Linked DNA regions of Homo sapiens: all the other regions are linked to region 1. Evidence: fine-mapped expression QTL. A gene starts in region 1. Each other region holds a variant in brackets. All regions are shown on one strand. Distances are between the middles of the regions.

Region 1 (9,825 bases):
ATGATTGTTTTAAGCCACTCAATTTTGGGGTGTTTGTTATGCTGCAATAAGTAACTAAAACACCACTCTGTATTTTAATTGCTTACTGACTTTGTTTGCACTCCTAGGCTATTTTCTGTGAGGGCAAGGACCACATCCATGTTTTGTTTTGTTTTGTTTTAATTTTTCCTCAAGACAGAGTCTTGCTCTGTCGCCCAGGCTGGAGTGCAATGGTGCGATCTTAGCTTACTGCAACCTCTGCCTCCTGGGTTCAAGTGATTCTTCTGCCTCAGCCTCCCAAATGGCTGGGATTACAGATGCGCACCACCACGCCTAATTTTTTGTATTTTTTTTAGTAGAGATGGGGTTTCACCATGTTGGCCAGGCTGGTCTTGAACTCCTGGCCTCGTGAACCACCCACCTCGGCCTCCCAAAGAGCTGGGATTACAGGCGTGAGGCACTGCGCCCTGCCCACATCCATGTTTTAAAATTGTTATATACTTAGCATATCCTTTAGCACTAAATAAGCTGTCATATATTTGATTAATGCAAATTAAGAATGCCTACAAAAATGAAGGCAACAAGTATCTAGAATACTCACTGTAGTGACAGTACACAAAGTACACAATGGCATGTGTAGTCATCATGAAAGGTGATTAACTGGACAGCAGGCAATAGGTTCCCAGTGTCAGTTTACCTTTGTGGAGGATTGAGTCAACTTGAGGGACTGTGTAGAGGGACTGAGCCACAATCCAAAACCACAGAGTTTGGGGTCTGGCAGTTGAGGCAGCTGCCATTCAACCAACAGCACTCCCGTGAGCTGCACTCAACAGGTGATCTGCTGTGGGCTCCAGCCACCCTCGCCATCTACCCTCACACAAGTGGTCTGATGTTTCTGTTTATGGGGACAAGAGATGCCATAATGCCATTCTATACATGGGGGCAGATGTCCTAGTCTCTCCTTCAAAACTTTTCAACTAGCTTCAAACAGGGAGGGCCCTCAATGAATGTTTGTATCTGCAATGAATACATTTCCACTCAAATCAGTAAATCCCCTGGCTGGGGTCTGGTACCCTTGGCTGTAATAATCATTAGTACAAGATGTTCTGTCAACAGGGATTGTTTGGACATATTCTTTGGGCTGACAATTTATGTCAAGCCCTATGTGGGACACGGAATAGGGAAATGCTATTCCTGTCCTGAAAGGAGAGAACTGGGAAGGCTAGAGTTACACAAATGAGATAAATACCAAGACAGCATATAATTACTGCTAAACTGTGTAGTAAGAAATTAAGTGCTATAGGAATTGGGAAAAGTAGGGAGCAGGGAGGGCTCAAACAGTTGAGGAGTCTACACTGAAGAGCTGGGATTGGGCTGAACCTTGAGAAATGACACAAACTATGGATAGTCTGAAAGGAAGGAGGGTACAAAAGACGCAGGAGGAAGAACACAGCCAAACCAGCATACTTGTTTGTTACTTTATTTTCGGGACAGCAACACAAGGAATGTGAAAGGTTGCCGTCCCAAATCCCGAAGCAAGGCTATTTCTGAATAGTTGTCCAACATTCAAACTTCTGGGCCTTTATTTATTGTTTCCTCCGCTTGCAATGCCTTTCTTCCTTCTCCACCTGGCAAGCTCTTATTCACATTTAAAGGCCCCGCTCAAATGCAACTACTTTTCTGAAGCCTTCCAAGGGATCCCACAATCCATTGTTCATGCTTCTATGGGAACCTAACCTATTACACTTGCCTGCTTACCTCCCCTACTAATATAATTAATAGCAACTTACACTTACTGGGCTTTTACTATGTGCCAGGAACTATGCTAAACATTTTTATTTATTTATTTTTTATTTTTTGAAGGGTATTCCCAAAACACCAAGTTAAACATTTTTAACATATTATTTTATTTAAACCTCACAACAATTGCATGAGGTATTTTCCCTATTTTACGGATGAAGCTCTTGAGACTTAGTGTGGTTAAGGAACCTGCACAAGATAACATACCTACGAAGTAAGCAAGCTGTGATTCCAACCCAGATTTGTGGGACTCCAAAGCCCACTACTAATCCACTGGACCGTGTTCCTGGAGGCCACAAATGCTCTTTCCTCAGCTGTCTTCTCAGATCCTAGAACGGGCTGATATATGGCTCAAAAGTTCTTTAACGGCCAGGCACGGTGGCTCAAGCCTGTAATCCCAGCACTTTGGAAGGCCAAGGCAGGAGGATCACCTGAGGTCCAGGAGTTCGAGACCAACCTGGCCAACATGGTGAAACCCTGTCTCTACTAAAAATACAAAAATTAGCAGGATGTGGTAGCAGGCGCCTGTAATCTCAGCTACTTGGGAGGCTGAGGCAAGAGAATCGCTTGAACCTGGGAGGCAGAGGTTGCAGTGAGCCGAGATCACACCATTGCACTCCAGCCTGGGCGACAGAGAATCCGTCTCAAAAGAAAAAAAAAAGTTGTCTAACATATTAATACAACTTTCAAGCCACATGCCTCGGTCTAAAAGTAGGTGCCCCCAGTACACTTTTACCCCAGGTAGCAACTTCCACTCACCTTAAAGTCACATACCTGGAGGAAGGGGATAGGGAGGAAATCTAAACATCTTATACTTGAATGTAAGCTCCGTTATTTCACGGATTCAAATGTGGTGAAAGGAACTATTTTTTTTTCCTTTTTTTTTTGAGATGGAGTCTCACTCTGTCGCCCAGGCGCGATCTCGGCTCACTGCAACCTCCCGTCTCCCGTGTTCAAGCAATTCTCCTGCCTCAGCCTCCAGAGTAGCTAGGATTACAGGCGCCCACCACCACGCGCAACTGATTTTTGTATTTTTAGTAGAGACAGGGTTTCACCATGTTGGCCAGGCTGGTCTCAAACTCCTGACCTCAGGTGATCCGCCCGCCTCGGCCTCCCAGAGTGCTGGGATTACAGGCGTGAGCCACCGGGACCAGACGGAACTATTCTTTTCCACAAAAGAACAAACACATACATAACTTTTGCCACGTCTGAAGACGAGGGTTCTAATAGGGCGCGGGTGGTGTCTCAGGTATTTTGAAAGGAGCTACCCAAGAATCTCAGCTTGTCAGGCCAGTCATTCCATTTGACCCTATCTGGCGCGTATTGGGGCCCCGACAAGGTAAGGGGTTGGCATGAAGCTGCACAGTGAGATAAAGCTGGACCGGAGCTAGAACCCAGAATCAAAGCCTTGCCCTGTGCGGTTTCTCATCGCCTACGCAGTCGGGCCCTGGCCTGGCATCTCCAGGCAGGTGGCCTTGGACGGAAGCCCGGCCTACTGGCTTCATTTGTGGGACCCCGGGGGTCCTCTCCTCCGCCCATGGAGCCTGGTTACTCCCACTTCCTCAAGCCTAGGGCCTGGAGAAGCCTTTCCTGGTTCGCGGCCTCACGGTCTGCAAGGTCCTCTTACTTCCCTGAAGCCGCTCCAGCCCCACTTCCCGAAGGTCCCGCTTCCGGGTGGCTCGCTTCGCCACCTGCGGTCCCCTGCCTCGGCTTGGGAACGCCAAGGACATCCCCCACGGAAGCCTGGGCCCACATCCCCATGCCCTTGCCGCACGTCACCGCCCCGCTGGCCCCGAATACGCCTCCGCCCTGCACTTCCTCTCTGCAGCGCCGTCTTTCCGGCCGGGCTCCCTTCTAATTGGCCAGCTCAGAGCTTCCTCGGGTACTCGGCCACTCGGGGCATCGCGGCGGCCTTTCTAGCCGCTGTCCCAAGGGTTGGTCTCGCGCTTTCGGCTGCGAGCTCTCTGTGGTGCTGGCAGCGACATGTGGCGCCTCCCGGGACTCCTGGGCCGAGGTAAGGGACGTCCAAGCAACCAGCGTCACTCTGGGCCGCAAAGACCGAACTGGAGTGGGGGCGGGCCCGAGGAAACAGCCGAAGCGATCGTGGGCCGGGTTAGAGCCAAGGAAGGCGGGGCTTGAAAGAGGGCGGGGAAGTCAGGGGCTGCTGGAATTTGAGATGTGGATGGGCCTAGCTAGAAGAGGGTGGAGTCCAAGAAGTTGGTAGGACTGTTGGGAGGGGGAGGAGTCCAATGGCAGGAGATGGTGGACTGAATGAATGAAAGAGGATTAGGGGCCAATGGAGTAGGCATAGCCAGTGAAGAGAGGAGAGGTTTAGAGTCAAAGAGCCCCAAACATTAGTGAGAGTATATGTATGAACGTTTGGTCATCTTAGAACAGTGGTTGGCATCCACAGGAGACCAGCAGAATCACATGGGCGCTTTTAAAAAACGTGGATGCTCTACCCTGAGAAATCTTAGTTTATTGGTTCTGGGGTACTACCCTAGAATCTGTAGTAGATAAAAGATTCCCATGTGTATCCATGTTTAAGAACCTCTGCTGAGGCAGATGACAGTGATTCCTGGGTTCTTGTTGAGGTGCCTGAGTTTTGGTTGTTCTGTACAGCTCTTCCCCGTACACTGGGACCTAGCCTCTGGAGGGTGACTCCTAAGTCCACCAGCCCAGATGGGCCTCAGACTACCTCCTCCACTTTGCTGGTTCCTGTGCCTAACCTCGACAGGTAAGATACTGCCATTTTACCACTCATTTCCTCCCCTAGTCACCCTTTTTTTTTATTTTTTTTTTTTTGTTGTTTTTTGAGATGGAGTCTCATTCTGTCGCCCAGGCTGGAGTGCAGTGGGGCAATCTCAGCTCACTGCAACCTCCGCCTCCCAGGTTCAAGCAGTTCTCTGCCTCAGCCTCCCGAGTAGCTGGGATTACAGGCACCCGTCACCACACCCTGCTAATTTTTATTTTATTTTATTTTTTTTGAGACAGAGTCTCGCTCTGTCGCCCAGGCTGGAGTGCAGTGGCGCGATCTTGGCTCACTGAAACCTCCGCCTCCTGGGTTCAAGCGATTCTGCTGCCTCAGCCTCCCAAGTAGCTGGGATTTCAGGCATGCACCATCACGCCTGGCTAATTTTTTTTGTATTTTTAGTAGAGACGGGGTTTCACCATGTTAGCCAGGATGGTCTTGATCTCCTGATCTCATGATCTGCCCGCCTCAGCCTCCCAAAGTGCTGGGATTACAGTGTGAGCCACTGTACCCAGCCAATTTTTATATTTTTAGTAGAGATGGGGTTTCACCATCTTGACCAGGCTGGTCTTGAACTCCTGACCTCGTGATCCACCCACCTCAGCCTCCCAAATTGTTGGGATTACAGGTGTGAGCCACCGCACCCAGTCCCTGGTCTCCCTTTGCCCCTACTTGATAGCCTCTTATTTCATCATCTAGGTCAGGTCCCCATGGCCCAGGCACGAGCGGGGGTCCAAGGTCCCATGGATGGAAGGATGCCTTCCAATGGATGTCTTCCCGTGTCTCCCCGAACACCCTATGGGATGCCATATCTTGGGTAAGGCTTCCCCAGCCTGGTCCTTGACCTTCAGTGTAGATGAGAATGATCCTTCATGGGTATACAGCCGAACCTGGAACAAGGGCTAGGGAATCACTGTGTCCATTTAACAAGTAACCCATGGTATTGGAGCATATTCAAGGAGATATTGCCACTTTCCACACCCCCGCCATGTATGTTTTCCTCATTTAATTCAGTAAACATTTATGTAACACCTTGTCTGGGCCAGGCATTTTTGCTAGTCACTACGGACATAGCAGAGAACAAGATAGATACATTCTTGCCTTCATGGATCTTACAATAAATAATAATACATTGCATCTTTTTTTTATTATTCATTTTTTTTATTTTTAAATTATTATTTTTTTCTGAGACAGAGTCTTTCTCTGTCGCCCAGGCTGAAGTGCAGCGGCATGATCTTGGCTCACTGCAACCTCCGTCTCCCGGGTTCAAGCAATTCTCCTGCTTCAGCCTCCCAAGTAGCTGGGATTACAGGCACGTGCCACCACGCCTGGATAATTTTTGTGTTTTTAGTAGAGACGGGGTTTCACCATTTTGGCCAGGATGGTCTCGAACTCCTGATCTCGTGACCCACCCACCGCGGCCTCCCAAAGTGCTGGGATTACAGCTGTGAGCCACCGCGCCCGGCCTTATAGCATTATTTATTAATGTAAAGTATTATACATGCATTATCTTGTGTAATCCTTACAAAAATCTTACAAGGGAAATATCACCTTCATTTTACAGCTGAGGAATCTCAGGCTCTGAAATATTAGGTAACATGCGTAGGGTCTCATACCTGTTAAGTGGAGGAGCCAGATTTAACTCTGGAGTTCATGTTCTACTGCTTGGTTGCTGCATCAAATACAGAGCCTAGCCCGTAATAGTTGCTCAAAAATATTTGTTGAACCTGATCTATAAGGTCAGATTCTTACTAGTGAACACTAGGTCTCATAGGGCAGAGTCTTCGCTTTTCAGGCAATGTTCCAGGTGGAAGTTCTGCTTATAAGATCTTCTGAATGAAGTTGACACACACATCACTCTCATGTTTGTCACAGCTCATCCCTGCTGCTTTCGTGCTGTGTACTTTGGACAAATGACTTGACCTGTGTGACCCTTGGCTTTCTCATCTGTAAATTGGTGTCATCAGCAGAGCTGAGCCTGGGATGTCTCCATGACAGGGTTACCCCTCTATGGGGAGCTGTGGACTAAGGCCATATCATACCCTGAAGAGAGGAGCATTTTCCCATGTTGCCAAAGAAGATCTGAGCCCTAGGGCTGTCCCATAGTGAGAAGTAGGAAGTGGGCCTGGATTCCAGAAGTCCCAATGCCATCCCTGTGCTCTGTCACTACTGCTCATATGAAAGGGTCTGCACGCAAGCTGTCCTCAGTACCATGGATACTTGTCTCTGTTCTTCACAATGCTGGTGCCTTTTCTTCTGGCCTTAGCCCACACGTCACCCCCACAGACAGGCTTTCCCTGACTCCTTGTCTTGTCAGGACCCCTTTTATGCTCTGTGTAACTCTCTGATTAGTTTCCTTCTTGGCATTTAACATCACTAGTAATTACTCTATTTCTCTCTGTAGTTGTGTTTTGTCTTTCTAAACACAAGATATAAACTTCATGAGGGCAGAAATTATGTCTGTCTTACTTGCTATTGTATGCAGTGCCTGGAGCAACAAGTAAGTATCTGGGTCAACCTGTGTGTTTTTTTTAGGCTGGAGCGCAGTGGTGCGATCCTGGCTCACTGCAACCTCTGCCTCCCAGGTTCAAGCAATTTTCATGCCTCAACCTCCGAGTAGTTGGGATTACAGGTGTGCCCCACCACGCCTGGCTAATTCTTGTATTTTTAGTGGAACAGAGTTTCTCCATGTTGGCTGGTCTTCAACTCCTGGCCTCAAGTGATCCACCTGCCTCAGCCTCCCAAGTGCTGGGATTACAGGCATGAGCCACTGCACCCGACCCTGGGTCAACCTTCTTAAGCATAACATAAGGAGAGACAGGAGACAGGGAAAACCAAGGAGTCTCTGGGATAAGAGCTAGCTCAGGTCTTCTGCAGACCTGTCAGAGAAGAAACACCTTTACAAAGCTTACACCTGGAGATGTGTGTGTGCTGGGGTGGCTTCACTGGGGGAATGGGAGTTGGTGGAAGGAGGGGTTGTGCAAGACTGGAAAGAGAGCCTAATGGGGAACTCTGACCTGTTGCTATATTTGCAACTAGGTGCCAACCTACCCCATTATCTTTTTGCCTGCTTAGTCTTCGCTTATTTAGTCACTTGATCAAGCATTTATTCAGGTTGTACTTATTAGGTCCCTACTATATATTAGCACTGTGCTGTACTTGGGCACCAGAGATACATTGGTGAGTAAAACACACATGGTCCCTGCCCATGTCGTGCTTATAGACTAACAGGAGAGACAGACCTTAGATAAATAAATGTAGAGATGATTGTTTAAATGCCAGTGTGGTCAGGGCTCCAGAGAAGTTAGGGTGTTGTGAAAGTTTGTAGTCGGGGAGCTGCCCCACCTGGATTTCCTGAGGAAGTGATGTTTGAGAATAAGGCCGGGTCTGATGGAGTTGATTGGTGAAGGACCGTGTCCTTAACGTGCTGTCTTTCCCAGGGCACTCTGGCCGTGCTGGCCCTGCAGCTGGCAAGGCAGATCCACTTCCAGGCATCCCTGCCAGCAGGACCTCAGCGGGTAGAACACTGCTCCTGGCACAGTCCCCTGGACCGTTTCTTCTCATCTCCCTTGTGGCACCCATGCTCCTGTGAGTTCTCAGTCCTGGGGACAGGAGGGCTGGGCTGGGCGTTTCTCTGGGCCAGGAAGCGTCTCTGGACACACCTCAGGAAAAGAGCCATCAGCAGCTCCTTGCCTTTCCTATCTGAAGTCAGAGGAAGAGGAATGTGGGGAAGTTCTATCCACCCAGGGCATGGGCCACACCTGCCCCTCAGTGTCTTTCCATTTCCTCCCATCACCTCCAACCAAGGGAGGCCCACAGGGTCCAGACTACTTTAGATTCTGGGTGTGGCTTCCTGGCCCACATTCAACCAGTTAAATTATTCTCTGGTCAGTCACTCAGTCATTCATAAATAAATGAATCTTTATTGAGCACCTATTATGTGCCATGGTGCAGAAGCAACATAGCCTAGTGGTTGAGGCTCTGGAGTCAGATTATAGAGGTTCAAGTCCCAAAATTGCTGCATACTAGTCTTATGTCCCTGAACAAGTCACTTTTAACTTCCTTCTGCCTCGGTTTCTTTATCTATAAATTGGGGTAATAATAAAACCCACCCCATAGGTTTCTTGGGAGGACTAAATGAGTTAATACATGTCAAGGACTTAGGGCAGTGCCTGACACATAGTAAGTGTGTAGTAATTATTAGTTTAAGCATTAGTTCTTGTCCTTATTATGATGATAATCATTAGCAATATTGCTATCAAAGAAAGTGCTAGGTACTGGGGCTACAACAGTGAGTAAGGTAGATGCCTCCCTGCCACTGAAGAATTTAGGCAGAGGAGTGATTGATGCTTAGGGTGGGAGATCAGCACAAATACAGGCCCCTCTAGACTCCTCTGGAGGGAAGCCAAGGAAACAGAGGAGGAGGAGTGTGAAGGAAGTGTCACAGGAGTTTCAAAATTCTTCCTATGGCCTCTAAAACCTCAGGGAGGACTCAGTCAAGCCCGAGCAGCCTGCACTGATCCTCTTCTGACCTGATCACTCTTTTTTTTTCTTTTGAGACACAGTCTTGCTCTGTCACCCAGGCTGGAGTGCAGTGGTGTGATCTTGGCTCACTGCAACCTCCGCCTCCTGGGTTCAAGCAATTTTCCTGCCTCAGCCTCCTGAGTAGCTGGGATTACAGGCATGTGCCACTGCACCCCGCTAATTTTTTGTATTTTTAGTACAGATGGGGTTTCACCATGTTGGCCAGGCTGGTCTTGAACTCCTGACCTCAGGTGATCCACCCGCCTCGGCCTCCCAAGGTGCTGTGATTATAGGTGTGAGCCATCGCGCCTGGCCCAGACCTGACTACTCTTGCTGGCTCTTTCCAGCACTGCGACAACACATCCTCCCCAGCCCCGATGGCCCAGCTCCCAGGCACACTGGCCTCAGGGAACCCAGGCTTGGCCAGGAAGAAGCCTCAGCTCAGCCCCGGAACTTCTCACACAACTCTTTGAGAGGAGCTCGTCCTCAGGACCCCTCTGAGGAAGGTATGTCCCTGCCTCATGGAATCAGCAGAAGGCAGGGGGCGGTGGTGGTGAGCTGGGCAAGATGGACGTTGTTTGCTGCGAAGGGAATTGGCACTCCTGTGAGGTCCCATGCCTTGTGAGGTGATTCAGGGTTATTTCGGTTCCTGGCAAGGGTGCTGGCTGGAAAGCCTGGGTAGACTGGGAGAGTCGGAGAAAAGAAGTACAACTTTCTCCTTTGCCCTGGCCGGGTGTCGGCCTTTCCCTTGCAGGTCCCGGTGATTTTGG
Region 2 (9,825 bases), 110 kb before region 1:
CACAGCCCGGCTCCTCACGCGGCTCCTGTTTTATTAACCTGACTGTCGGGGCTCTCGCCACTGAATAGGGCCTGTCGCGGGGGCTAAGGGGGTGGGGGGGCCTGGGCTTTGCCGTAGATCACCATGGAAACGGCAGCCTCGGCCAATCAGTGGACAGGCAGCACCGAGTGCAGCAGGCAGCTTGGTCTCCGAAGCCTCGTGCAGCCGCAGGCTGACTCCTGCCTGACAGGCCTTCCACAGCCCCTGCGGTGGGAGAGGATAAGAGCGGGGACAAGACCCGAGGAGAGGGGGCAGACGCGCAGGAGTGGTGGGTAGTATGAGGCCAGGGGACACTGAGGGTTGGACTAGAAGATGGGAAGAGACTGGGGAAGGGGATCAGGGACTCCTGGGGTGGGGTTTTGGAGGAGCCCGGGGCAGGGGGCTGCATTTCTCCCCAGCTGCAGTTCTCTGCCTAAGCCAAGGTTTCTCAGCCTCAGCACTATTGACATTTGGGACCAGGTGCTTCTTTGTTGTGCGGGCTGTCCTGTGCACCGTAGATTGTTTAGTTGCATCCCTGGCCTCTACCCACTAGAAGCTAGCAGCATCCCCCCACCCCTAGTTGTGACAACCAATGTCCCCAGACATTGCCAAATGTCCCTTGGGGGGAAAAAACCACCCCTGGGTGAGAGCTACTGGTCCAGGCACTCATAGGGCAGTGGTCACTGTTTATGAAACGTGCTCTCTCTGAGCTGGCTTCTCTAGGGAAGAAGGAAGGAGGAAGAAGAAGATGAATAGGAGTGGGAGTGAAAGAGAAAGGAAGAGGAGGAGGAGCAGGAGGAGGGAGCCCAAGGCAGGGTTCCAGGTGGGTGGGAGAGCCTCTGGAAATAGGGATGTAGGAGAGAGACGCCCCAGGAGGGAGACATAGGGCTGCCATTTTGTGCTGCAAGAATGAAATAAAGTAAGGTTCCTAAATGCCTTTCCTCCTGGAGTTCCTTCTACCTGCTACAGCCCTTACCAACCCTGCTATAGAAATATTGTCTTTCCTTCAGGCCCATATCAGGCACCACATCCAAGAAGCCCTCCCTGATAATCTCAACACATTGAATTTTCTTTTTTTTTCGTTTTCTATTTTTTTTTTTTTTTAAGATGGAGTCTCACCCTGTCGCCAGGCTGGAGTGCAGTGGTGCAGTCTCAGCTCACTGCAACCTCTGCCTCCTGGGTTCAAGTGATTCTCCCACCTCAGCCTCCCCAAGTAGCTGGGATTACAGGCACCCACCATCATGCCCGGCTAATTTTTGTATTTTTAGTTGAGGCAGGGTTTCACCATGTTGGCCAGGCTGGTCTCAAACTCCTGACCTCAGGTGATAACGCCTGCCTCGGCCTCCCAAAGTGCTGGGATTACAGGCGTGAGCCACCATGCCCAGCCCTCCTTCTTTTTTTTTTTTGACAAGGTCTCACTCCATCACCCTGGCTGGAGTGCAGAGGCATGATCATGGCCTACTGCAGCCTCGACCTCCTGGGCTCAAGCAATCCTCCCACCTCAGCCTCCCGAGCAGCTGGGACCACAGGCACGTGCCATCATGTCCAGCTAATTTTTAAATTTTTTTGTAGAGACAGGATCTCTCTATGTCACCCAGGCTGGTCTTGAATTCCTGGACCCAAACTATCCTCCTGCCTTGGCCTCCCAAAGTTCTAGGAGGTGTGAGCCACCATGCCCAGCCCAGATTGAATTTTTATTTTCTCCAGGACTGCTCGTCACTTTGCTTCTACCTCCATGCTAGTACTCAGCACCTTGGTTCACCTACTAACAATAGTTCCCTTTAGTGAGGGTTTCCTGTGTGCCAGATGCTGCAGCAAAGGCCTTAAGCATGCTTTCTCATTTAATCCTCCTCACAGCTCCCTGCATCTCCAGTACTATTATCATTTTACAGATAAGGAAACTGAGACACAAATTAAGTAACTTGCACAAGGTCACTCACCCAGTTAGAAATAGTAAAGTGAGGATTCAAGCCCAGGTTTTCCTGACTTCGGTGCATGTGTTTTAAGCCTCTGTTAGTGTCCATCTCCCCCATTAGATTCAAAATCGCTGGCAATGCCTAGCACAGTGCTGGCGAGTAGTAGGCACTTGAGAGCTGTTTTGAATTGGCTGGTGGTCTCTGGAAAGGTCTGCCTGGGCAGCTGAGAAGGAGGGACTGAATTGGCAGTGCCAGGGTGTTGAGTGCCCTCTAAAGGCCCTCAGGTTTTGCTGGGGCCTGGATGAGCTGGGCCAACCTCATGAAAGGCAAATGCCACTGAGGCTACATCTCAGCCACACTACCTTACTGGGCCACCTTGGGTCTCTGGACTGACCTGTCCCTCAACCCCATGGATGCTGGGCCATGGCCCCCCCTAGTGGCCAGAGGGTCATGGTAGCGGTGGTGTGGGATGGGAGTGAGGGCAGCTGGAGATCTCACAAACAGCCCAGTGGGCTTCCTTCCCTCTGAGCCCTATTCCTAGGTTCCAAGCTCTCTGAGGAATTGGAGCCAGATGCCTCAGGAAACTGTCATTGTGGAGCCTGGCCCCTAACCGAGGCCTAGAGAATGAAGCAAACCCCCTTTTTCCCCATTACTCCCCTCCACCCAGTAAGAGCCCCTTTCCCTCCTGCCCCATTTGAAATGAAGGGGGTAGTGTTGGCAGACAACTTCCATCACAGCCCGCCTCCCACCAGGGTTGATTCCACCCCCATCCCTGCCTTACATTCCACAGAAAAGGGTTTGAGGCTGAGGGTTGTCTGACAGGAAGCATCGCATGATGCTGCTTCCCACCCAGGTTAAGGTTTTGATCTGGAATCCAGGAGCTAGAGTCCCAGGGGGCTTACATCAGAGCTGCTCCCCGACCCCAGACACGCATACACCACCCGCCTCCCCCAGGAGGCACCTCAGCTTTGAAGGCAGGGCTCCTGACAGGCTGCCGTTCCCATGGCAACCCCATCCCAGGCTGCCCTACCCAGCACTTCCTTCCACCCCCCTTCCTCCACCCTGAACCCGCATCACCTTCATTCATAGAACAAGAGCTGCTTCACATTGGCAAAGTGGACACCCCTTCCCCCAGTTCTCTCCCTTTTTTTCTTCCTCTTCTTATTCAATGGAGAACCCAAAACCAGAGAGAGAGAAATGGATGGCAAGAGTAGGACTAAGGTGGATGAGGGGTAGGACAGGAATGGGAAGGAGCCATGGCTCAGTGCCTTCTGCCAACCTGTGGACCCCCCAACTCCAAGGCTCCAGTGTCTACTCTCATTCCCAGATCTGTCTCAGTTCATGGATCTGTGCCTCTCCCAGCTCTATCTCTGTGGAGATCCAAGACCTAGCCAGGCTGTCTGATGGCCTTATGGCTCCAAGCATAGCAGGGCCAGGTCCCAGCCTCCAGGCCCAGGTCTCCAGCCACCAGCCAAACTGTAGCTCAGAGGCCAGGTGCAACAACTGGGCTCTGGAACTCAGCCTAGGAGTACTGAGGCTGCTCCTGTCCCTAACTCTGGTGCCCCTCCAGCATAAGACACTACCTTGCAGAGGTCACTGGGGAGTGAGGGGACTCTAATTTACAGTAGGATTGTGGGAAGGGCTAGAGGGGAGTCTCAGACTCCAGCCCTGGTTAAACAATGCAACTTCTCCTGCTGGGAGAAGGAAACTTGGCTTTTGGACCATTGGCAGGTGCTGTTGGAAAGTCAGGACAGGCATCAATCCCATCTCTGCAGGAGGTGCTGAGCAATGGTCAGCAACTCAGCTTCAGAATCAACCAGCCTGGATTTGAATTATCATGCCCTAATTTATTCACTGTGTGATGCCTACCTTCTCCAAGACTTGCTTTCCATATATGAAAAATGGAGATAGTAATTATATATAGGTATATGACCAATATTTATAAGCTCTACCACCCTTCCAGAGACAGTGCTTGAGATGTAATCTCGTTTAATCCTCATAACAGCCCAGTGAGGTAGATATTATTATTACTATATCTAGTTTATCCTACAGAGAGGAAACTGAGGCTCAGAGATGTTAAGGTGGTTAAGGTGACCCAGCTATGGGACTTTTTCTTTAACAGACAGGGTCTTGCTATGTTGCCCAGGCTGTTCTCGAACTCCTGGGCTCAATCAATCCTCCCGCCTCAGCCTCCCAAGAAGCTGGGACTACAGGTGTGCAGTACCACTGTGCCTGGCTAGGAGCAGAGCTTTTAATCCCAGGCCCTATAAGAGAATGTATGCACAGTGTCCAGCAGCTGCTAACTAACCAGTAAGTGAAGATTTTCTTATTAGTGAGGTTCTAGGCCCTACATTGGCCTCATCTCTCATTTCCCTCACTCTGGGGATATACAGCCTCCACTGGCAACCAAGATTGTGAACTTACTGGGTGAGAGTCAGGAAGGAGCCCAGGCTTGGTGAGATTGAGGATGTGGTATGGAAGGGACCTAATTTTGTGGCTGTGAGAGACCATCTCTAGCTGGCCCTTCAACTGTGGAAATAGAGCAAGAGGGTGAGGCCTCCGGGAGGCAGTGGCTTGTCCAAGGTTACCTGGTGAACAGACAGCTTCACTCCTCCTCAGCCCCCCAACCCAACCCTTTGGACAACACATCAAGGTCAGAAGCCTCTGAGGATTAGAATCTCTGGAGAAGGGTGGAGAGGTGTAGAGGGGAAGCAATATTTGTACTAAAGGGAGCTGTCCTGGAGCTCAAACCCACACAACCAGACTTGGAATCCTCACCTCCCTTAAGGCTCACCCCCAGCCCCTCCAGCTTCCATCCACCCCTTCCCCGAGCAGCCCCGCCCCTCGAAGAACCTCGGAACACTGGGGCCTAACCATCTCCCCCCATCCCCCATCTTGAGTGAATGTGCCGAACAAACAGCATTGTTCCCTACACAATGGACACAAAGAACTTGGGAATTCACA[G/A]AATGGTCCTGAATTTCTGCTTCCTTCCCCTCCAAGCCCTAGAGAGATCCATTGTCTGTAAACTCCACTTAAAATATGCACCATAGCTCCAGCTGGGGAGCCACTTAAGACTTGCGGAAGCTCCTCCTCCCACCCCCACCCGCTGCCTTCCCTCCTTCCTAGCCCTTTCAGAGCTAGGCAGAAAGGAGGGGGAGCAGCAGCCACCTAGAGTCCCTGATGGAGTCTGAAGCTGGGAACGACCCTGTCCACCCCCAAGTTCCTTAAGTCAGACGCTTATCTCACTGGGTCAGACCCAGCACCACTCAGCACCTGGGGCTCCCATTGTTACAGCTGCGTTGGGGTTGAAGGACCTGGTCAGCTGGTGGACTACTAATCACAGAACCTTGATGCTGACATGAAGACTCCCTGGGGCACCTCCCTCTATTCTCCTGTCTGCTTACAGACCCCCAAGGACAGGGAACTCACTACCTCCTAAGGCACCTGTTCTACCCCTGAAACTTCTCATTCTTATAAGACCTTCCTTAGAAGGAACCCCACCCACTTCTCCTTAACAACCCACTTCTTCACCTCCCTGCTCCTATGTTAACATGGTCTTCCTCTGCAATGTGACAGCCTCGCAGAATTTGAAGGCTGCCAATATATTTTGAATATACTGAATATATTGAATATATTGAACATAGAACACATTTGAAGGCTGTCAATATATTCCCCTGTATAAAGGGGATACAGATAAGTTACACAGGTAAGATAACAAGCCCTCAGGCTGGGAATGTGACTCATGCCTGTAACCGCAGCACTTTGGGAGGCCAAGGCAGGTGGATCACTTGAGGCTAGGAGTTCAAGGCCAGCCTGTCCAACATGGCGAGACTCTGTCTCTACTAAAAATACAAAAATTAGCTTTGTCGTGGTGGCGGGCACCTCTAGTCCCAGCTACTCTGGAGGCTGAAACATGAGAATTGCTTGAACCTGGGAGGCAGAAATTCCAGTGAGCCAAGATCGGGCCACTCTACTTCAGCCCAGGCAACAGAGCGAGTATGTCTCAAAAAACAAACAAAAAAATCTCAGATAACCAGCTTTCCCAGAGGGTTGTAATTCTGGTGGGAAGTCAGATACTAATATCAGATAAGATAATGCATAATTACTAAGTAAGATAAGAAGTTGACTATAGGAACTTGGTAATATGAAAGCATCTAACAAAGGAAACTGATCTAGTGTAGAAGGTAGAAGGGTGACCCACCGTAGGCTTCCTGAGAGCTAAAGAAAGTAGGATTTGGCCGGACACACTGGCTCATGCCTGTAATCCCAACACTTTGGGAGGCTGAGGTGGGTGGATCACCTGAGGTCATGGGTTCAAGACCACCCTGGCCAACATGGTGAAACCCCATCTCTACTAAAATACAAAAATTAGCCTGGCATGGTGACACATGCCTGTAGTCCCAGCTACTCAAGAGGCTGAGGCAGAAGAATCACTTGAACCTGGGAGGTGGAGGTTGTAGTGAACAGAGATTGTGCCACTGGACTCCAGCTTGGGTGACAGAGTGAGACTCCATCTCAAAAAAAAAAAAAGGCCAGGCACGGTGGCTCACGCCTGTAATCCCAGCACTTTGGGAGGCCAACGTGGGCAGATCACCTGAGGTCGGGAGTTTGAGACCAGCCTGACCAACATGGAGAAACCCCGTCTCTACTAAGAATGCAAAATTAGCCGAGTGTGATGGCACATGCCTGTAGTCCCAGCTACTCAGGAGTCTGAGGCAGGAGAATTGCTTGAACCCGGGAGGCAGAGGTTGCGGTGAGCCGAGATCGTGCCATTGCACTCCAGCCTGGGCAAGAAGAGAAGAGAGAGGAAAGAAGAGAGAGGGGAGGGGAGGGGAGGAGAGGGGAGGGGAGAGGAGAGGGAAGGAAAAAGAGAAAGAAAGAAAAAAAGAAAGAAAGAAAGAGAAGGAAGGAAGGAAAGAAAGAAAGAGAAAGAAAGAAAAAGAAAGAAAGAAAGAAAGAAAGAAAGAAAGAAAGAAAGAAAGAAAGAAAGAAAGAAAGAAAGAAAGAAAAAAGGATTTAATTCTGGAAAGAGGGGAGGAAACAGTATGCAGGGTGATGGGATCAGACTGTGCAAAGATCCTGTGGCAGGAGGGAATCCATCTTATTCAAGGACCTGAAGAAGCCAATGGGATTGGAGGCCAGTGGGTGGGGTTGTAAGACTGTAGGTCTCAGTGAGGAGGTTGGCATGATTCTAACAGCAATGGAAAGATACAAATGTGTACGTGCAATAAAAGCTGATTGACATTTGCCTCAGAATGACACAGATTCCTAGAGTCACTGGCCCAAAGCAATTCTTCCGAGCTTTTGCACTTGCTGTGCCCTCTGCCTGGAATGCTCTGTTTCCAGATTTTTTCTGAGGCTGATTTGTTCTCATCATTTAGGTCTTGACCCAAACCACTCGTCCTAAAGGAGCTCCCTCTACATGCACTGTTGCTCTCTATCCCTTTATCTTGTTTTATTATTTTTACAGCACTTTCACGATCTAAAACTAAATTGTTAATTTCTTTGCTTTACTGTTACTCTTTCCACTCGCTAGAAAAAAAGCTCAGTATGGGCAGGAATTTTGCCTTAGCGACTACCACATTCTAGCGTCGGCATTGTGCTAGCCCACAGTAGGGCCTCAATAAATAATAAATGAACAAATGAATGAATTACTGAATACACACCAAGATAAAAGGGCCAGTATTTACCCACAAACATACACATATAAATGTATGGTTATTCATGGGCAAGTGCATGAGTACCCACGGTGACTCAGAGATTTCCCTCGCCCACAAGGACCACCTCTCAAGGGGCCTTTTAGGCAATCCAGAGCCTGTACAGTTCATTGCCCTAGTCTAGCTAATCAATATACACCTCCTCTGGCTGGATGAGGACCTGCACAAGCAGACCTGTCTCAGGTCAGCCATTGGTTAATCAAAGACGAGGGTGGAATTTAAAGTGCCCTATGGAGGGGCAGTGAAAACAGATTGATCCATGTGGCCTGGACACAGTAAAACCCCTTACAGGCTCCATTTATTTCCCACCTCTCATCTCCCCTCTCCTCCTGGGGCCCCAGCCCATCTTCCACTGCTCCCCATTTCCCACTCTACTGGAAGTGGCTGAACCAGGCATTGTGTGGGACTCAGGACAAATAGATTAGAATTTAGTGGGGTTTTACAGGGTTTGGGAATTTGACTAGGTGGGCAATATTTTAAACAAGCATTTATTGTCTTAGCAAGTACCTACTAAGTGCAAAGCTTGGCTAGGGACTGCCAGATTCATTACATAATAGCTGATTCAGGGCAGACTGTGAAAAATGATTTAGTCAGAAACCCTAAAGGTGGAATCCCTGTGTTCCCAAGGTACATGTCAGAGTGGGACACAGTTAATTCCCAGTTGGGGAGCTCTGGGATAGCTTACTAGAGTATCATTCTAAATAACTACCACTTTAATAGAGCACTTACTGTGTAAGCACATTTTACATGTGACCTTTCTGATTTAATCCTCACTCTTAAGCCTCTGGGTATGTGTGATTGCTATTATTATCCCATTTACAGATGGGGAGACTAAGGCTCAGGGAGGATTAAGCGAGTTGCCCAAATTTTCCACAGCTATTAAGCGGCAGAGTAGATTTTCAAGCTCAAGAGGAGACGCCAGAGTCCCTGCTCTGGGACCCCACCATGACAATGGCTATAGCTGTGCCTTGACGCAAAGGTAGGACTTACTTAGGTGGGAAGATAGGAGAAGTCCATTCTAGGAAGAGGACACAGTTTGAGAAAAAGCTGATAGGCAACGGTGCCAGAAGTTTTTCTGTGTGTGTATGGATTTTGTTTGTTTGTTTGTTTGAGACTGAGTTTCGCTCTGTGGCCCAGGCTAGAGTGCAGTGGTGCGATCTCAGCTCGCTGTAACCTCCGCCTCCCAGGTTAAAACGATTCTCCTGCCTCAGCCTCCTGCGTAGCTGGGATTACAGGCATGCGCCACCATGCCCGGCTAATTTTTTGTATGTTTAATAGAGTCAGGGTTTCACCATGTTGGCCAGACTGGTCTCCAACTCTTGACCTCAAGTGATCCGTCCGCCTCGGCCTCCCAACGTGCTGGGATTACAGGCATGAGCCACCGCGCCCAGCCTAGATGTTTTTTAAAACTTTCTGGTAGCTGGTCAGGTGTGGTGACTCACACCTGTAATCCCAGCACTTTGGCAGGCTGAGGCAGGCGAATCACCTGAGGTCGGGAGTTTGAGACCAGCCTGGCCAACATGGAGAAACCCCGTCTCTACTAAAAATACAAAATTAGCCAGGCGTGGTGGCGCATGCCTGTAATCCCAGCTACTCGTGAGGCTGAGGCAGGAGAATCGTTTGAACCCGGGAGGCGGAGGTTGCGGTGAGCAGAGATTGCGCCATTGAACTCCAGCCTGGGCAACAAGAGCGAAACTTCGTCAAAAAAAAAAAAAAAAGAAAAATCTCTGGTAGCCTGAGGTCCTAGGAGATTTAAAACAACAACAACAAAAATAACAAAAACAAACAAAAAACAACTATTGCTGACTTTTTTCTCTATCTGGTCTTTAGGATATTAGCCCCAGGATGGATTCTTGCCCTGGGTGTGTCTTTCTCTAGTTCCCAAACAGAATTTTATCCAAAGGTGGATGATAGGGGGTGAGGGTGCAGTATTTTTGGTGAATTGGTCTTCTCCCTACCCTGGCTGGGATGGGGGCCACTTGGGGACACTTTCCAGGCCCAGCTGGTCCTCTGCCCATCTGCATCCCTGCCTCCTGACTCATTTCATTCCAACCAATAGAGTCTTAGCATGCAAATTTAATGAATAGGCAAAGAAATGATTGGCTCATTTTCCCTGATGTAATAATGCCACTATTCAAGTAACTCCTATGAACCCTACCCCCACCCCAGTTCAG
Region 3 (9,825 bases), 25 kb after region 1:
CCCTTTCCTGCCTGTGATACTCCGTGGCATCTGTTCTGCCAGAGGACTGACCCTTTGTGCTCCACATATGTTTTGCCAGGAAACACTTATCTCAGCCACAAACCGTCCCTGTCCTCCAAAAGACTCAGAGCTGCTTACAAGGGGCTGCTTTGGTCAGTCAGCTGTTAGTCCTGGGGCTCTTGCCTCCTCTGTGGGGGTAGCATCAGTCACCCTAAAGTTCTCAGGCCGCCGCTAGCTAGTGAGTTACAAGATTTTAGAAACCAGCTCTTGTCCACAGATCCTCAGGCCCCTGGTTCTTGGATCCAGAGGCGTCTGAGGTATGTTCACAGGCACCTGCTGCTGCTGCTGCTGCCTCTGCTCTTGCCCTCAGTCCCCGTCTTTCCACCTGGGTCCCCTTGCACTTTCATGCCTGAGGCTGCACTGGTGGCCAAGTCTAAACTGAGGGTCCTCCCGCAGACCGAGAGCCGCCGCAGCGCCTCGGAGGCGGCCTCCACGGGCATGCTGGAGCGCTGTTCCAGCAGCATCTCCAGCAGTGAGCTCATCTCCGAGACAAAGGTGCTGGCCAGCCTCGTGCCTGTTGGGCTCAGCTCTGGTGCCTCTGCCTTGCCGAACGTCTGGAAGGTCCTTGGCTCCTCCGTGGCTGCAGCATCCGGGGAGATCACATTGTCACGGTAGTTGGTGGTGAGGGGCAAAGAGAGTCTCGCCATCCAGGCCGGGTCAGGGGCGCTCAGCCGGTCCAGGGCCAGACCTGTGGGGGAAGGAGGGGACACAGTGAGGGCCAGGCTCCGGGAAGGGCCAGGCGGGTGAGGGTGGGGCAATGAGCAGGGCAAGGGCAGTGGACAAAGGAGGGAAGGGAAATGGCAGGGGACAGACAGAGTGGCCAGACGGGGACAGGAAGGAAGAGGCCCTGACAGGGAAGCTCCCTGGGTAGGAAAGCAGTCGACTGACACACCCGGGCGAACCAAGTGGGGAAGCAGCAGGAGGAGGAGAAGGCCTAGAAGTAGAAATTTGCCGATTTCTGAAGAATTTCCCAATCTGGGCGTGTGTTTCCAGTCTCAGTGTCTTCTATATTTCATCCAGGATTTTTACCCCTCAGGGCGCCTTCTCCCCTCAGGGCTCCACTAGCTGAGGATGGAGGGAAAATCCCTTTTCTTTGCCAAGGCTGGAGTTCCTGACTTAGCGCTGCCTTTTTTGGTTCCCATCCATAATAATAGGGACCACATATTAGGTACTTACGTGATGAGCAATTTACATAATTATTTCATTTAACTTCACAAACCTTTGAGGTCAAGAGTATTATTCCCATTTGATGGATGAGGAAACTGAAGCTGAAAGAAGTTAAGTCACACATCTGCTAGGCAACCAAACCTCAATTTGATGCCAGGTCTGATGACTTTGAAGCCTATGATGGCACCACCCTACCCTCTCTCTGAAGAGCTGGCCCTTCCTCCCCCTGGATACTCCAGGTGCCCAGCTGGGGCCTCTGGAATTCCCAGGCTACCTAAGGTCTGCACTGTTACCACCTGGCCCCAGATCCTCAAATCCTCCTCAACATCATCTCTCAAGCTGCTGGAACCCTGGCCTAGAGTCAGGCTGGGGAGGGGCTGCCTGTCCAAGGGCTGTCCCAGGAGAGGGACTGGGGTAGTGGCGGTGGCAAGTCAGCCTGGTGGCTGGGAATTCAAAAAACTGGCCCCTACATTTGCAATGCCACAGTCACCCTTCTTTTCCCATCCCTTTAACAGAAAATCCTGTTTCAAGAAACCAGTCCCAGGCCTGATGGTAGAGACCAAGCCAGAGGAAAGAAATTATAAGTCTTGGAGTTAAGAAACAGTGTCTTAAAAAAATTAAAAAAAAAAAAAAAAGCACAACATCTACTTAACATTTATCTAATGTTTGCCTAAGGTGAGTTACTTTAAAATCTGCGCACAGAATGAAAGACTGGAAGGAGATATGTCAAAATGTTAACTGAAATTACCTCTGGGCAGAAGCAATCCATTCTCTTTTTGTTTATCTATGTTTTTCTATATTAACCAAATATTACTTATGTAATTTGAACAAGTTATTCCGAAGTATGTGTAGTCATTTATTGTACTGATAAATGAATCTCTGCCCTGCATTCTGGACTGTGCAGCTTGTGAGACACTGTTGGGCTCCTGCCCTACTGGATCCTTGGGTTTAGCCCCATGCCTGGGACTTAGTGAATGTTTGTTGAATGATTGAATGAACATAAATATTAACCTTCAACATTTGGGAAATGCAAACCTTAGTTCCTTGAGACTCTGAGGCTATAAGGTTGGATGGAACTCTTGGTGTTATAGAATCAGGCCTTTCCTTTTACATGGGTCAGAGAGCTTCAGAAGGAGTGAAGCTTGGAATGAGAAAATCACTGGGGCGTATGAGAACAGCTGAAAAGTGATGCTGAATTCACCCAGCATCACCCACCAGTTCTAGCTGCAGGTGGGCACTGGGCCAACCTGGGTTTGATTTCCCAGCTTTGCAGCTTAGGGGCAGTGTGTGTGACCTTGGGAAAATGGCTTAACCTCTCTAAGCTCCCGTTTCCTCTTAGGAAGTGGTGAGACAGTAGTACGTATCTTGTGGAGTTGTTGTGAGGTTCAGTGAGTTCATGCAACCAGGAAAACATTATCATGGTCGCATTCTCAAGTGGGGCAATCTGAATCCGAAGCAGCAAATCTGAAGCAATCTGAAGCAGATCTGAAGCAGCAAGATCCCAGTCTCCCCATGGCAGTCCAGCCTGTGAGCAGCAAAGGCTTTTCTGCCCCTCCTCTTTCCTTACCCCCAACTCCTTACAGTGCCCCTGTGTTCAGTACCCTTTGTGCTGTGGGCAAGCAGGACCGTGTGGGAACTGACCCCACAGGTTCCAGCCAGAGCTGACCAATAGAGATAGAATCCAAAGCTATATCCCCCAGCCATACATAGCCAGTGAGCACTTGAAATGTGGCTGGTATGGCAGAACTGAATATTTTATTTTATTTAATTTTAATTCACTTAAATTTAAATAGCCACTTGTCGCTAGTGACTACCTCATTGAACAACACAGCTCTAAAATTTACAGCCACACTGCCTGTGTTAATAACCATCCACGAGCTGCACAACCTTGGGCAAATTATGAAACACCCCTGACCCTCACATTTTTCCTTTATGAAATGGGGATAATGAATAGCCCCTATCTCATAAGATTTTCTCATGAGGTACTTAGAACAGGGCCTAGCACATAGAAAGTGCCCAATAAACATTAGCAATATTTTTTAACCAAGGAAAGAGAAGTCCCTGCCATACCTTCAGTGTGTCTGCAGCCAGATGGAGCACATGAGAAACAGTGTTAACTACATAGATAGAAAACCACAGCACAGGGATGGTCTGCCGTGGGGTGTGTTACCAAAGGAGGCTGACCAATGTCCACAGCAGGGGCGGGGGGCGCTAGCAGATTCTTGAATTCAAGTTCACATTATGTATTTATTGTCAAAGCTAATTATTTCTCTGCAAAAAAATCTTTTTGTTTTCATTGCAATTGTTAGCATATTAAAGAGTTGACCTGGTTCCCAGGGTGAAAGGGTATTGAAACACACCAAACGCCAATGAGTGGTAAGAAGTCCATAGAGGACAGGCTGGCTCAGGGTTTGGCTCCCCTTCAATCACTGGTGAGCTGGGTGACTCTGGGAAGGCTACTTGATTTTTTTGAGCCTCGGTTTGCTCATCTGTAAATTCGAGGTAATAATTATCTACTTGAGGGGATTGGTTGGAGGCTTAAATGAGATCATGTACATAAGATGCTTCCCCAGTGCCTGGCATGTTCACTATTTTTACAATGATTTTTAAAATGAATAATCAACGTAGGCCAGGTGCCTACTTTGGCTTTGATTACAGGTGGCTCATGCCTCTAATGCCAGCACTTTGGGAGGCTGAGGTGGGTGGATTGCTTGAGCCCAGGAGTTGGAGACCAGCCTGGGCAACAGGTGAATCCCTGTCCCTACAAAAAAAAAAAAAAATCAAAAATTAGCGGGATGTGGTGGTGGTGCTCACCTGTAGTCCCAGCTACTTGGGAGGCTAAGGTGGGAGGATCACCTGAGCCCAGGAGGTCAATGCTGCAGTGAGCTGTGATCATGCTGTGATCATGCCACTGTACTCCAGCCTGGGTGACAGAGCAAGACCCTGTCTAAAAAAAAAAAAAATCAAAGTAGAACCTGGTCTTTAAAATACTTTCTGAGGCTGCAAGGGTGCAAGGGAAGTTAAATGTTGCTGATGTTCCTCCACAGAAACAGAATGGCTTTTCCCTGCAGTGGATTGGAGCAGAACTCTGAAGCTTGGACACCATGGGGCAGAAGCAGGGTCAAGGTAACTCCAGGGGGTCCCTACCTGTGCTGGGGTCCAGCAGACTTGACAGCTCTTCTTCTAGCAGTTGCTTCACAGAGAGGTCCTCTTCAGGATCCAAAGGCCCTTCCTCCTGTTCTGGGTCTGTCTGGCCTCCAGCCCTTGCACTTGGGCCATCTGTGTCTGGGATTGCACTCCTGCAAAAGAAACCAACCAGTCCATGGGTAGGGACATTCCCATATAGATTCATTCATTCATGCCCATTCATGTTTGCATTCATTTACCCATATAGGGAACTGGATACACAGCCTGGCCTCTAGAGTCAGACCAACCTGGATCATGTGATTCCCGCCCTCCTCTTACTCTGTTTCCTCATTTGTAAAATGAGAGTAATAAATAACACCCACCTCACAGGGTGTTGTGAGGGTAAAATGAGACGTTGTAGGTAGAGGGGCCTACCACAGAGCCTGGCACATTGTAAGCACTCAGCAGACAGAAGTGAAGATGAGTTCATTGATATCATTCTCGTTGCCCCTCCCATGTCTAGGTATTGCCTGGCACACAGGAGGAGTTTAGTAAACCTCAGTGGAGCCAGTGCAGCCGTCCATCCGTCCGTAGGAGAAGGCTGGGATTTTTGCCTGTCTCATTGCCTGCTCCCTTACTGATGCTCAGAACAGGGCGTGGCACACAGTGGGTGCTGAATGAGTGACTGAACATTCCTTCCTCCCTACTTTAGGCCAAATCCTAGGCCAGAAGAGCAGACCTATGGAGGGTGCAGCCGGAGTGAGGCAGCCTAAAGCTGCTCAGAATCTGCTACCTGCACCCCAGTCTCCTGCTGTCTCCATCCTGGTCCCTCTCTCCCATAGACACTTGGGGACAGGCCTGGACCCTCATCCCAGCAGGTGGGAAGGCTACCTGAGGGGTTTTAAGGCGTAGGAGTCCTTCTGTTTGTTTGGTTTTGTTCCCCTGTAGCCATTTCTGCTGCTGTGAAGAAATGAGCAGGGAGGTGGCAAGTGTGTGGGTGATAATGACAACTAATGTTTTTGAGCAGTGAGTCTGAGTCAGGCCTTATGCGATGCAAGGTCCATGCACCGTCTTATTCAAACCTTCCACACCTGTAAGGGGTTCTCTTTAATCAACCCATTGTACAAATGAGAAAACCAAGACTTGTGAAGATTTTGCAGGTTGCCCAAGGTCCCCATAGATTAAGAGATAAAGCAAGACTTCAAATCCAGGCCAGTGTGACCCTGGAGTGTGTGGACTCACCCCTGCAGTACACTACCTCTCACCATCCTTGTAAAAAGAAGCTGTAAGTTGTCAGGGCAAGAGCACTGATGCAGGAGTCAGGAACTCTGAGAGCTGGTCCCAGCTTTGCCACTCACTTGTTACATGACCTTTAGCAAAATTGCTTCAAGGGGAAAGGAGTTAGCATTGTGTGTGCACCTACTATGTGTCAGTTGCTGGGCTATGGGCTTAGAATACAATTGATTATGAAATCCTCACCCCATTACCACAAGGGAAATGGGATGGGTTCTGTTTTACAGATGGGGAAACCAAGGTCCTGAGAGATTATCTCACTTGCTCAAGTTTAC[A/G]TAGCTGGTTTGAATCAAGCTACTCAGAGCCTCAGTTTCTCCATCCGTAACAAGAAGTTGGATTTGATGTTCTCTTAAGGTGTCTTCAATTCTAGGATTGCCCAAAGGGACACGCCCACACAGCCATGTCTTTAGTGGGGAGCCTTCATATTATGTTTATGGGTCAAGAGAAAGAGAGGTGACAGTTACAGATATAAAGGCAATTTACAGCACCTCTGTAATTGGGACAAATACAGTCTCAGGGATGAGGTCATTTCCTTGGTGACTACTGTATTGATGGTATTTATCAATACAGCTAGTTAGTCCTACAGGACTTCTAGGTCCTGTAAATACTATCAATACAGTCACCTCACGACCAAAACTCCCAGGGTGGGAGGATGGATGCTGTCTGCTGCACCCTCCCAGGGGACCGGTGTCTGACTTGTGCTCACCCTTCCTCACTCACAGAGGCTGCAGTGATGAGGGGCGGCCAGTAGGGGCCTTGAGATGCCTGTGGGGGCTACGTGCTGCTTACCTGCTGCCTCCTGGCTTGGCCAAGTACTTATTTCCTCGGTGGTTTGGTTTGGGCTGGAATTGGCCCTGATGCAGCAAGGACAGCAGCTGGGAGATTTGCTACAAGACAGGAAAAATCTGTTGACTCCACACAATTCCGACTCAGCACACTTCCTCGCCGGATGTTTCCCTCAATGCCGGTGCTTTCTTTTTATAGTCTTTCCTCTGGCTTCAGATGTTTGTGTGATCAGATGGGGGATGGTGCCCAGTGACAGAGACAGGGACCTGGGCGGGCAGGTCCCCTGCTCTGTCATGTCACCCCAGGACCTGAGTGTCTGAAGGAGAGCAAGAGGACCCTCTGGGCCTGTCCCCTCATACTCATTCCTCCGAGTGTCCTGCACCTGGTGGACTCTGAGAGATGGGGTGAAAAAGGCATTTCCTGACCATCAATTTGTTGTTACTTTGATGAAGATTATCTTAAAGAGTTATGTTCCCCTTTAGCAGTATTTGGACATTCGGCCAATTTTTGTTGACCAGATGTAAGACTATGTTGTAGAGAAGGCAAAATGGTGTCATTGAATTATTCATTTATTCATCTTTTCATTCATTCAACAAGTACTTAATAAGTGCCAGGCAGGGTGGTTGCTATGGGAGTAAGAAGGAGAAGGAGCCCCAGCTGCTGCCCTCAGCGTGGTCACATCTGTCAGGATGTGAAGGTTGCAGGCAGCCCCACAGGGAGGCTGGCTGGAGATCAGGGCAGCGAAGAGTGTTTACCACAGGGGTTGCCTCTGGGCATAGGGAAAGAATGGGGGCTCTGTGGGAGCAGAGGGCCCCTAACCCAACTTGGAGCAGGGAGGAAGCAGGGGGGTGGTACTGGATTAAGTTAATTCATTCATTTCAACAGATGTTACTGAGTTCATACCACATGCCAGGCACCTCTGCTGAGACCCAAAGGCTCCATAGGAGTTTGGCAAGTGGAAAGAGAATGAAGGTCTGGGCAAGGGGTGGGGAGGTTTTCAGGCAGAAGCACTGCACACTGAAAGGCTGGAAGAGAAGGTAGAGTTTCAGAAAGACTGGAGAATGGAGTAGGGGATGGGTGAGATATCACGGCCAGACCCTATAGGCCATTGGAAGGGAGAGGCAACAGATCAAGTCCTGGGAGGCGGAGTTCTAGTTCAAGGCCATTTGTAGCTTATTGTATAGCATTAGACAGGTTTTTAGACCTCCTCAGACCTCAGTTTCCTCATCTCTAATAGGGGGCTAGAAATACCCACACGCCTTCTTCTCAGTGTTGTCACGATTAAATGGTTTGAAAAAGTTAAAAATCCTCTGCAAAAGCAAGGAGTTTGCACTGTTATTCCTAGAAACACTGCTTCCTCCTCCTGGGTCCATCCCCATTCCTCCCTTAGGAGGTCCACCATGCCCCTCTGTGCAGCTTGAGGTAGGAAGTGTCAACCTCAGAGGAGAGTTGGAAGAGGAGATGGCCAGGACTGGGGTTTCACTGTGACTTGGGAGACTCGGGGTCTTATTGCCTGCCTCAGGGAAGATCCCACCTCCCAGCCCAGGCCCAGAAGCCCTCCTAAGATACCTGCCACCCTTTGCTCAAGTGACAGCTGCCTTTTCATGACATGACTCCCTACATGCCAAGCCCTATGCTGAGCACTGTCATTCAGGGTCACTTCACAGTTACAGCCCAGACTCGAATCAGTCAGACTCAGGTTCAAATCCTAAATATGTCCCTGCCCCAGTTCCCATCAGTGTGGCCTTGAGGAATTACTTAAGCATTCTGAGAAAATTACTCAGTTTCCTCAACAGTAAAAAAAGTGCATATTAATGAGACCCAGGTCATATGGTGGGTTACGAGGTTTAAATGAGCTTATTAATAAATCCCATGATAAACAGTGATTGTCCAGTGGTGTATAATCTCATTTAATTCTTACAACAGCCTAAGGGAAGAGATACCATTATGGCCATTTTGCAGAGGTGGAATTGGAGGCTCACAGGGGCTACACAGAAATTAGTGGGAGGGCTGGAATTTACACTCAGATCTGACTCTATGTGCTGCTGGAAAGATATGAGCATTGGGCAAGTTGCCTGTTACCCTCAAGTTGATCCCAAATGGGCACCTTTCTTTCTGTCACCTCAGCGGGGTCACCCACAGGGCCTATTCTCTGTTGTCCTGTCTACCAGCAGCCAGCACAGTGTTCAGCACAGAGTTTATCCAAAAAGCACCTGATAAATGGATGGATGAATGGAAGGATAAATGAATGGTTGGCTCTGGCAGCCTCTGGGTCTGCACCGATCCCAGGGCAAGATTCCTAAGAGAACAGCTGGGCCATCTCCAGGTGGCTTCCTGAGGAGGGAATAGGGAAGGAAACTGTGTTTTGCTTCACAGGAAACCTGAGCTGATAGCCTGGCCAAACAGAAGTGTGCCTTGGGCGGGCAGCCTGGCACAGTGAAAATATCTGAGGTTCACAGAAGCAGATATGGGTGTGAGATCAGGCATCATCCCTGGAAAGGTTTCCCCACTTGTGTCTAGAAAATCCCAGGTCCTTAGACATTTTGACACTCATCATCCCATTTAGCCCTCACACTCTAAGGAGGCAGACACAGGGTAAGTTTGGTCTCATAATCCCCATTTTATAGATGAGGAAAATGAGGCTCAGATGTTGAAGGACGTGTACAAGGTTGCCCAGCTCCTAAGTGGCTGTGTTGAAATCTGAACTCCAATCTGCCTAACTGCTAAGTTCTAAGGTAATTTCCACTGCCCCATCCGCAGGCCCAGCCGGAAAGCTCTGGGGTCTCAGACAAATTATTTGCAACACCTGGGTTTGGGTGCAATGATGCCTATGCTGGCCTTCTTCATAGGGAAGTTGCCCAGATGAGATGAAGGCAGGCAAATAGTGGAGATGGAGAAGTGCTTTGAGGAAGTAATAGTAATAATTTGCTGAGTACTGACTACATGTCAGATGGACACTGTTCTACAGGCATTAAGAGCATTCACTCATTTTATTTTCAAGCAAACTTAGAAGATGGGTGGTGTTAACATAGACATCTTCAACAGAGATGTTAACTTCCTCTGTGGTTCAGAGCTAGGAAGAAGTGGAGCCAGGATTTGAACCCAGGTAACCTTGCCCAAAGCTTATACTCTTAATCACTACCTTTGCTGTGTGTCTACTTGTGAGGCACCATAAATGCCTTATAGGAATTAATTGATCAAATCCTCTGGACAACTCTACAAGGTAGATACTCTTACTATCATCTCTAATTTACAGATAAGACAACTAAGGCCCAGAGACAGTAAGGAATTTGCCTAGGATCACACAGCTAAGTTCAGCCGATCACAAAGCTGTGCCCTGAACCATTGCTACCCAAAGCATCAGAAAGTGCCAGGTGAGCCTAAGGAAGAAAC

Which allele goes with the higher level. Positions count from the first base shown, and alleles are read on the strand shown. Sizes are in standard deviations (SD) of each study's normalised expression. Not every link is listed here.
In carriers of allele G in region 3, the expression in testis of the gene that starts at base 3,692 in region 1 tends to be lower than with A alone (small effect, 0.24 SD a copy in GTEx).

Evidence for each region. PIP is the estimated chance that this variant, and not a neighbour inherited with it, causes the effect.
Region 2: its variant is the best candidate, but not a certain one, in a credible set for the expression of DELE1 in whole blood (INTERVAL, PIP 0.58).
Region 3: its variant is the best candidate, but not a certain one, in a credible set for the expression of DELE1 in testis (GTEx, PIP 0.79).

What each region holds. Positions count from the first base shown.
Region 1 is chr5:141,920,180-141,930,004 of GRCh38, forward strand. It overlaps DELE1 (DAP3 binding cell death enhancer 1), which reads left to right and starts at 3,692. Exons shown (of 12, transcript NM_014773.5): 1 at 3,692-3,793; 2 at 4,402-4,516; 3 at 5,231-5,348; 4 at 7,972-8,119; 5 at 9,403-9,561; 6 at 9,810-9,825. The coding sequence starts at 3,763. RefSeq lists enhancers at 3,573-4,086, 9,142-9,642.
Region 2 is chr5:141,811,880-141,821,704 of GRCh38, forward strand. It overlaps LOC107986454 (a long non-coding RNA gene), which reads right to left. Exons shown (of 3, transcript XR_001742906.2): 1 at 9,610-9,825. Among named protein-coding and RNA genes, the nearest start is that of PCDH1, 62 kb to the right of the region's middle. RefSeq lists enhancers at 71-719, 3,771-4,762, 4,763-5,753. The variant G/A (reference allele first, on the strand shown) is at 4,899.
Region 3 is chr5:141,945,058-141,954,882 of GRCh38, forward strand. It overlaps PCDH12 (protocadherin 12), which reads right to left. Exons shown (of 4, transcript NM_016580.4): 2 at 6,436-6,533; 3 at 4,375-4,526; 4 at 1-748. The coding sequence ends at 324. It also overlaps a transcript of RNF14 not described here. Among named protein-coding and RNA genes, the nearest start is that of PCDH12, 8.2 kb to the right of the region's middle. The variant A/G (reference allele first, on the strand shown) is at 5,922.